Linked DNA regions of Homo sapiens. The protein of the gene in region 2 purifies or fractionates together with the protein of the main gene of each other region. This does not show direct contact. Each region holds a gene or a part of one and is shown on either strand. Other genes may lie near its edges.

Region 1 (3,819 bases), on a different chromosome or scaffold from region 2:
GGCACGGTGGCTCACGCCTGTAATCCAGCACTTTGGGAGGTCAAGGTGGGCGGATCATGAGGTCAAGAGTTCAAGACCAGCCTGGCCAACATAGTGAAAGCCTGTCTCTACTACAAATACAAAAAATTAGCCAGGGGTGGTGGCAGGCGCCTGTAATCCCAGTGAGGCTGAGACAGGAGAATCCCTTGAACCCGGGAGGCGGAGGTTGCAGTGAGCCAAGATCGCACTATTGCACTTCAGCCCAGACAACAGTACAAGACTCCAACTCAAAAAAAAAAAAAAAAAAAAAAAAAAACCCTGTATATACCACATTAGATGAGAGCTAATGAATGAATACTAGAAAACTATACAGAGTAGATTATAAGAGACTTTTGAAAATAATGACACTGTTCTTTTTTTTTTTGGAGACAGAGTCTTGCTCTGTTACCCAGGCTTTTTTTTTTTTTTTTTTTGGAGACGTAATCTCATTCTGTCACCCAAGCTGGAGCACAGTGGTGCAATCTCAGCTCACACCAACCTCCACCTCCCAGGTTCAAGCAATTCTCCTACCTCAGCCTCCCTAGTAACTGGGACTACAGGTGCCCGCCACCACGCCTGGCTAATTTTGTATTTTTTAGTAGAGAACATGTTGGCCAGGCTGGTCTCCAACTCCCGACCTCAGGTGATCCCACCCACCTCGGCCTCCCAAAGCACTGGGATTACAGACTTACAGACGTGAGCCACCATGCCCGGCAACACTGTTCTCTTAAGGGTAAAACAGACTAAAGTAATTCAAAATTGTACAATGAAAAATACAAACTGCCTAACAAATAACTTCATAGGAAACAAAATAATAAAGGAAATATGCATCAAGGTTTTAACAATATATCTTTTGCGGAAAAGAATAATAGGGCAGGGCATGGTGGCTCACACCTGTAATCTCAGCACTGCAGGAGGCCAAGGCAGGCGGATCACCTAAGGTCAGGAGTTCGGGACCAGCCTGGCCAATATGGCGAAACCCCGTCTCTACTAAAAATACAAAAATTAGCAGGGAGTGGTGGTCAGCTACTCGGGAAGCTGAGGCAGGAGAATCACTTGAACCCAGAGGCGGAGGCTGCCGTGAGCTGAGATCACGCCACTACACTGCAGTATGGGTGACAGAGGGAGACTCCGTCTCAAAAAAATAAAATTAAATAAAATAAAAATAAAAGAATAATAGGAACTAGGCTTCCTAAAGATTGTACTTTTATTTTAAAAATTAAGACATTTCCATTTAACACTTTTGAAGTATCAAAACACTTCAAAAAGTTCTGGAGATACAAAGATAAATAAAATACCTTATTGTACATCTATATAAGTATTATAAAACAAAAATGCATTGTGGACATTTCTGTTTCAACCATATAAAAACTATTTTAAAATATTTTCAAGAATATGTGTGTGAAAAGGGATGCTTTATAAAAAGTGAATATAATAGATTAGTTCAACTAGGTCAGTATGAGAAATAAAAAGCTTACTTAGTTTTTCTATTAATTCACAAACAGGAAAAAAAAATCTGATTTTCCAGTTCCCAAATGATTTCTCAGTTTAAAATAAATCAATTCAAAGGTCAACAAAACTGTATGCTTGCAGGAACCTAAATTATCAAGTCTGTCACTTCCAGGAAACTTTGAAGTTTTAAAATTTCACCAATTCACCCAAATTTCTTGTAATTATCATTAATATTAATATATAACCAATAATATCTACTCATGATAGCTAGTAAAATCCCAGCTTGCTTTTTTACAAAAATTGATACGCTGATCCTAAAATTCACATGGAAATGCAAAGGGCCCAGAATAGCCAAAACTGTCTTGAAAAGGAAGAATAAAGAGGTCTTCCCTATTTTAAAACTCGCCACAAATCTTCAGTAAACAAAAGGCAATTTGGTACTGGTTTAAGAATAGACACATAGATAAATGGAAAAGAATTGAGTCCAGATAAATCCTTACATTTATGCTCAACTGATTTTTGACAAAAGTGCCAAGGTAATTCAATGGGAAAAGAATAGCCTTTCAACAAATGGCACTCTAGCCGGGTGCAGTGGCTCACGCCTGTAATCCCAGCACCTTGGGAGGCCGAGGCGGACGGACCACAAGGTCAGGAGATGGAGACCATCCTGGCAAACACAGTGAAACCCTGTCTCTACTAAAAAATACAAAATAAAACTAGCCAGGCCTGGTGGCAGGCACCTATAGTCCCAGCTACTTGGGAGGCTGAGGCAGGAGAATAGTGTGAACCCGGGAGGCGGAGCTTTCAGTGAGCGGAGATCGCGCCACTGCACTCCAGCCTGGGCGACAGAGCGAGACTCTGTCTCAAAAAAAAAAAAACAAAAAAAAAAATGGCACTCTTAACAATTGGATATCCACATACAAAATAATGAATGTAGGCCGGGCGCGGTGTCTCACATCTGTAATCCCTGCACTTTGAGAGGCCGAGATAGGCGGATCACGAGGTCAGGAGATCGAGACCATCCTGGCTAACACGGTGAAACCACGTGTCTACTAAAAATACAAAAAATTAGCCAGGCGTGGTGGCGGGCGCCTGTAGTCCCAGCTCCTTGGGAGGCTGAGGCAGGAGAATGGCATGAACCAAAGAGGCGGAGCTTGCAGTGAGCCGAGATCGCACCACTGCACTCCAGCTTGGGCCACAGAGCAAGACTCCATCTCAAAAAAAAAAAAAAAAAGAATGTAGACCTTTCCCTTACCCTTATCTCACACCATACAAAAATTGACTTAAAATGAATCATAGGCCTAAATTTAGCAGCTAAAACTATAAAGTAATGAACACAGGATGTAAATGCTTTAAAATTAGATTGTGGTAATAGGTGCAAAACTCTTTAAATTTACTAAAAATCATTGACTTGTATACTTAAAATGAGAAGTTTTTTTCTTTTTTTTTTTTCTTTTTGAGACAGAGTTTCATTCTTGTTGCCCAGGCTGGAGTGCAGTGGTGTGATTTCTGCTCACTACAACCTCCGCCTCCCGGGTTCAAGCAATTCTCCTGCCTCAGCCTCCCAAGCAGCTGGGATTACAGGCATGCGCCACCACACCTGGCTAATTTTTGTATTTTTAGTAGAGACCAGGTTTATCCATGTTGGTCAGGCTGGTCTCAAACTCCAGACCTCAGGTGATCCACCTGCCTCAGCCTCTCAAAGTGCTGTGATTACAGGCATGAGCCACCGCACCCAGCCTAAAATTAGTGGTTTTTATGGCATGTAAAATACAGTTGTCCCTTGCTATACTGGGGACATTGGTTCCAGGACTCCTGCATAGACCAAAATCTGAGCATACTCAGATAAGTCCTGCAATGGCCCTGTGGAACCCAGTGATATAAAAAGTAAGCCCTTAGTATGCAACAGTTTCACATCCCAGGAATACTGTATTTTCAATTCGAGTTTGGTTGAAAAAAAAAATCACCATATAAATGGACCCATGCAGTTCAAACTCATGTTATTCAAGAGTCAACTGCATATCTCAATGAAGGTTTAAAAAAGCCACCTCTAGGCTGGGCGCAGTGGCTCACGCCTGTAATCCGAGCACTTTGGGAGGCTGAGGCAGGCGGATCACGAGGTCAGGAGTTCAAGAACAGTCTAGCCAACGTGGTGAAACGCCATCTCTACCAAAAATACAAAAATTAGCCGGGCTTGCTGGTGCATCCCTGTAATACCAGTTACTCAGGAGGCTGAGATAGAATTGCTTGAACCCGGGAGGCGGAGGTTGCAGTGAGCCAAGATCACGCCACTGCACTCCAGCCTGGGTGGCAGAGTGAGACTCCATCTCAAAAAAAAAAAAAAAAAAA
Region 2 (3,819 bases):
AAGGCAGGAGGATCACTTGAGCCCAGGAGTTTAAGACCAGCCTGGGCAACATGGTAAGACCCCCATCTCTACAAAACATAATAATATATATTTTTTTAATTAGCTGGGTGTGGCGGTGTGTGCCTTTGATCCCAGCTACTTGAGAGGCTGAGGTGGTAGGATTGCTTGAGCCCAGGAGATTGAGGCTGCAGTGAGCCATGATTGCACCACTGCATGCCAGCCTGAGCAACAGAGCAAGACCCATCTCAAAAAAAAAGAAAAAAAAAATTCCCACATGAGACTCCCTGTCTCCCTGGTGGACTCCCAAGAACAAGGACTGTCTTTCACATCTCTGTCTTGACTTCAACAGTTCAGCTCTGCACAGGCTAGGCATACAGTACACATAGAATCAATCCTTGGGGGAACCATCAAACATCAGTGTGGGAGAAGCCAATGAAAGAACATTGTCATTTTAAAATACTATCAGGGGAAATAGACCGAGCCAGAAAAAAGCCCTGACTAGCTCTCGGTCTGCCCACACTTGGGACCCAACCTCCAGCCAGAGCTCCATACCTGGAAGGCCCTCTTCCGGAGGTGCAGTATCCGCCCGCGGATGACCCAGGTACTGGGATGTGATCCGCGGGAAGCGGTGGTAGGCGAGCCGCGCATACTTCTCCCGGATCATTAGGGCCTTGGCCAGACTCTTGGCTGCCTGCTCATAGTCCTCCAAAGTGATCTGCAGAAGGGAGGCAGGCAGGAAAGGGTTCATGCAGCAGGCCTGAGACTGCCATCCTTGGAAAGATGTGCTTGCAAGATTGGCCCTTGCCTGGTATCTGGGAACCTAGATTTCAGGAGGGTTCTCACCACTCCTTGACCAATAAGAGTGGTTCATTGCACCTAAACTACTTGTACAAACAATATGGTTTATGTTGGACACCTGCTTTCCTTCTGGAGCCTGGAATTTGAGATGTGCTATGCAGACATGTGACCAGCCCCAGTGAAAACCCTGGGCACCGAATCTCTAATGAGCTTCCCTGGTAAACAACACTTCCCACATGTGCTGTCACAATGTGATGCTGGAGGTATTTGGTATGTTCTGATGACTCTGCTGGGAGAGGACCTTGGAAGCTTGCACCTCGTATCCTCCATGTATCGCTCCCTTTGCTGATTTGCTCTGTATCCTTTCACTGTAATAAATCAAAGCTGTAAGTACAGCTATATGCTGAGTCCTGTGAGTCCTCCTGGTGAATCATCCAACCTGGAGTGGTCTTGGAGACCCCCAACACAGGAGACACAGGAGGAGTTAGGGTCGTTGGAAGACAGACAAGTGCTCCAGCCTGCACACCCAGAAGCCGGCCTCACATGCAGCTAATTAAGCCAAAAGTCTGTTTTTGTACCAGGCCCATGGAGGGACAAAGCCTGAGTCCTATCCCTGAAGGCGATGAGCACCGTCATTTTCAGTTGAGAAAATTCATGTGTCCTTCAGATGGCGAAACAAAACAAGAAGCAAAAGCAAATTCTGCATGCTCAGCCTGCTTCTTTGCCAACCCCACACTTCTGATTAACTCTGTTAATCACCCAACTCATCCAGGCAACAAGCCCCATTGTCATGTGTTATGTGCCAGACCTTTCCATAGATTTCATTTTGCTCCTTACAGCAACCCATTTTGCAAATGGGAAAACTGAGGCCCAGAGAGGATAAATCACTTGCCAGGAAGCTACAGAGTCAAATTTCAGACTCTAACCTGATTGAGTCCCAAAGTCTAAGGATGTTCTGCTTTACCAGAGCAGCCTCATATTCAAAGATGAATGAGATAAATTCCCGCCTTCCAACAGGCTCATTAATCTTAGTCTGTTTGGGAAGGATGGGAATCGCAGAAATATGCTTGGGGAGACAAGTGGCCAGACAGACACAATGCAGGGTAAGGGGAACAGCAGAGGGAGGCACCATATGCTGGCATAGCCCAGAGTGGGGAGGGCTGGGGCCTGAAAGTGATCTCCTCTGCTTTAATAAAATCATCATTTTTAATTTTGTAATATTTTAAACATACAGACAGGCACCAAAGATAATATAACCTACCTTCTAGAGCTGACAATAATATTTAGCATAATTCTTTCAAATTTCTCACAGGTTTAAAGAAATAAATCATCACAGATACAGCTAAAACTCTACTCTCCTCCCTACCCCATCCTCAGAGGGAAGAAGTCTGAATATATTTTTCCTATGCATGTTTTTATACTTTTACTAAATACTACTAAGAAGTAGTATTTAGTAAATACTAAATACAAAAAGCAAGACTTTTTGTTACGATGGTAGATTCTCCTTTCCTGCCTCCAAATGTCCCCATAAGGTATGTTAATTCCTTTTACATCTTCCAGTGGATGGCTTCTGAGAGCGGCAGGAATAGGTGAGCAGACACCGACATCCTAGACAAAAATATGTCCCTGCCAACAACGAAGCCAAATTCTTTCTCTGGGGAACCAATGGACTCAGCATGACAAGGGGCTCATGCCATGGCTAAGGACATCAGAGAGGATGCTCAGGACCCCTGTGGACCCGTGGCCACCGGCCAAGCTTACAGGCATCACAGGCCCCATGGCTGACAGCAGACCTACTGCGTGCCAAGGAGATCTGCAAGATCAGCCTGCCTCTCACAGACACTTAGCTTTCTGAGGACCAGTTGCCCAGTTCAGGTGCTCCATGCACTACTCTGTGCCAGCCAGGAGACTGGGAGAAAGAAGCTATTATATGCTACAGGCTGACATCCTCCCATTCAGCTGGTGGCCGACCCACCTCGACTCTTGCTTTCCAATGCCCTGCCCACCTGCCTCAGGTTGGGTGAACACCAAAGACTCATGGTCAGGATGCTGATCTCCAGACAAGGCCTGCATTGTTTCCAACCCAACCTAAACTCCCATCCATGGGAACTTAATTAAAATAAGCTATGATATATCCTCATAAAGGAATACTATGTACATATTTTTTAAAAGGACAAAGAAGTTCTTTATATATTGATATGGCATTATCTTTAAGATGTATTGTTAAGTGGAAAATGCAAGATGCAGTATAATGTATATTGTAAACTACCATTTTTGTAAAAATAAGTAAATAAACTATGTATGCATAAATAATTGTAGGTACATAGACCATATATGTGAGAATACATAAGAAACTAAAACCAGTGGTTGCCTCTGAGGAGGAGAATGGGTGGCTGAATAATTGATACCATTTTTGTATCTTTTAAATTTTGTACCATCTGCAAGTGTTCTCCATTACACATAACCAAAAAAATTTTTGAAAGCTAGGGGAAATTTTATAGGAAGAGCAATAAGCTGCATTGCTTTCTCAGATTCACCATATTTTCTACAGCTACTGTTAAAAAGAGACTAATGAAGCCAACTGAGGCGTTAAGTAGTGAGTTGGGGCCAGGGAGATGGAGCCAAACTTAACCCTGGCACTAACTCAGTGATATTTCTCTCCAAGAAGCAGACATGCATAAAAAATGCATCATCCAATCAGGTGAAATTAGCACATTTTCAGTGACTGCGTTAATTGACTTAGTGTAAACCAATTTGCTCAATTTCTAAACAAGATTCTCTCTTCCTGGTTGAAGGGATCTAGCCTATATTTAAGGGTATTGAACCTACATATAAGAAGAGATGATTTAGCAACAACTAATTTCACACAAACCACTCAGTACCATGGCTTTGAATCTACTAAACATTTGGCAACACTGAAAGGCCCAAGCTGGCACCTTTCTCAACAGGCTACAGGGACCAATTCCAGCTTTCTGGACTTAGAGAACATGTGGAACTTACGAGTCACAGACACAGTGTGCC

What was found.
Region 1: the proteins of AMPD3 (region 2) and LRBA fractionate together in Homo sapiens (co-fractionation; one large-scale study listed by BioGRID). This does not show direct contact.

Annotation. Positions count from the first base shown.
Region 1 is NC_000004.12:151,005,170-151,008,988, forward strand, and holds part of LRBA (lipopolysaccharide-responsive and beige-like anchor protein), read right to left. Parts: intron 1-3,819. UniProt on the Homo sapiens protein: Involved in coupling signal transduction and vesicle trafficking to enable polarized secretion and/or membrane deposition of immune effector molecules. Involved in phagophore growth during mitophagy by regulating ATG9A trafficking to mitochondria.
Region 2 is NC_000011.10:10,478,959-10,482,777, reverse strand, and holds part of AMPD3 (AMP deaminase 3), read right to left. Parts: intron 716-3,819; coding exon 553-715; intron 1-552. UniProt on the Homo sapiens protein: AMP deaminase plays a critical role in energy metabolism.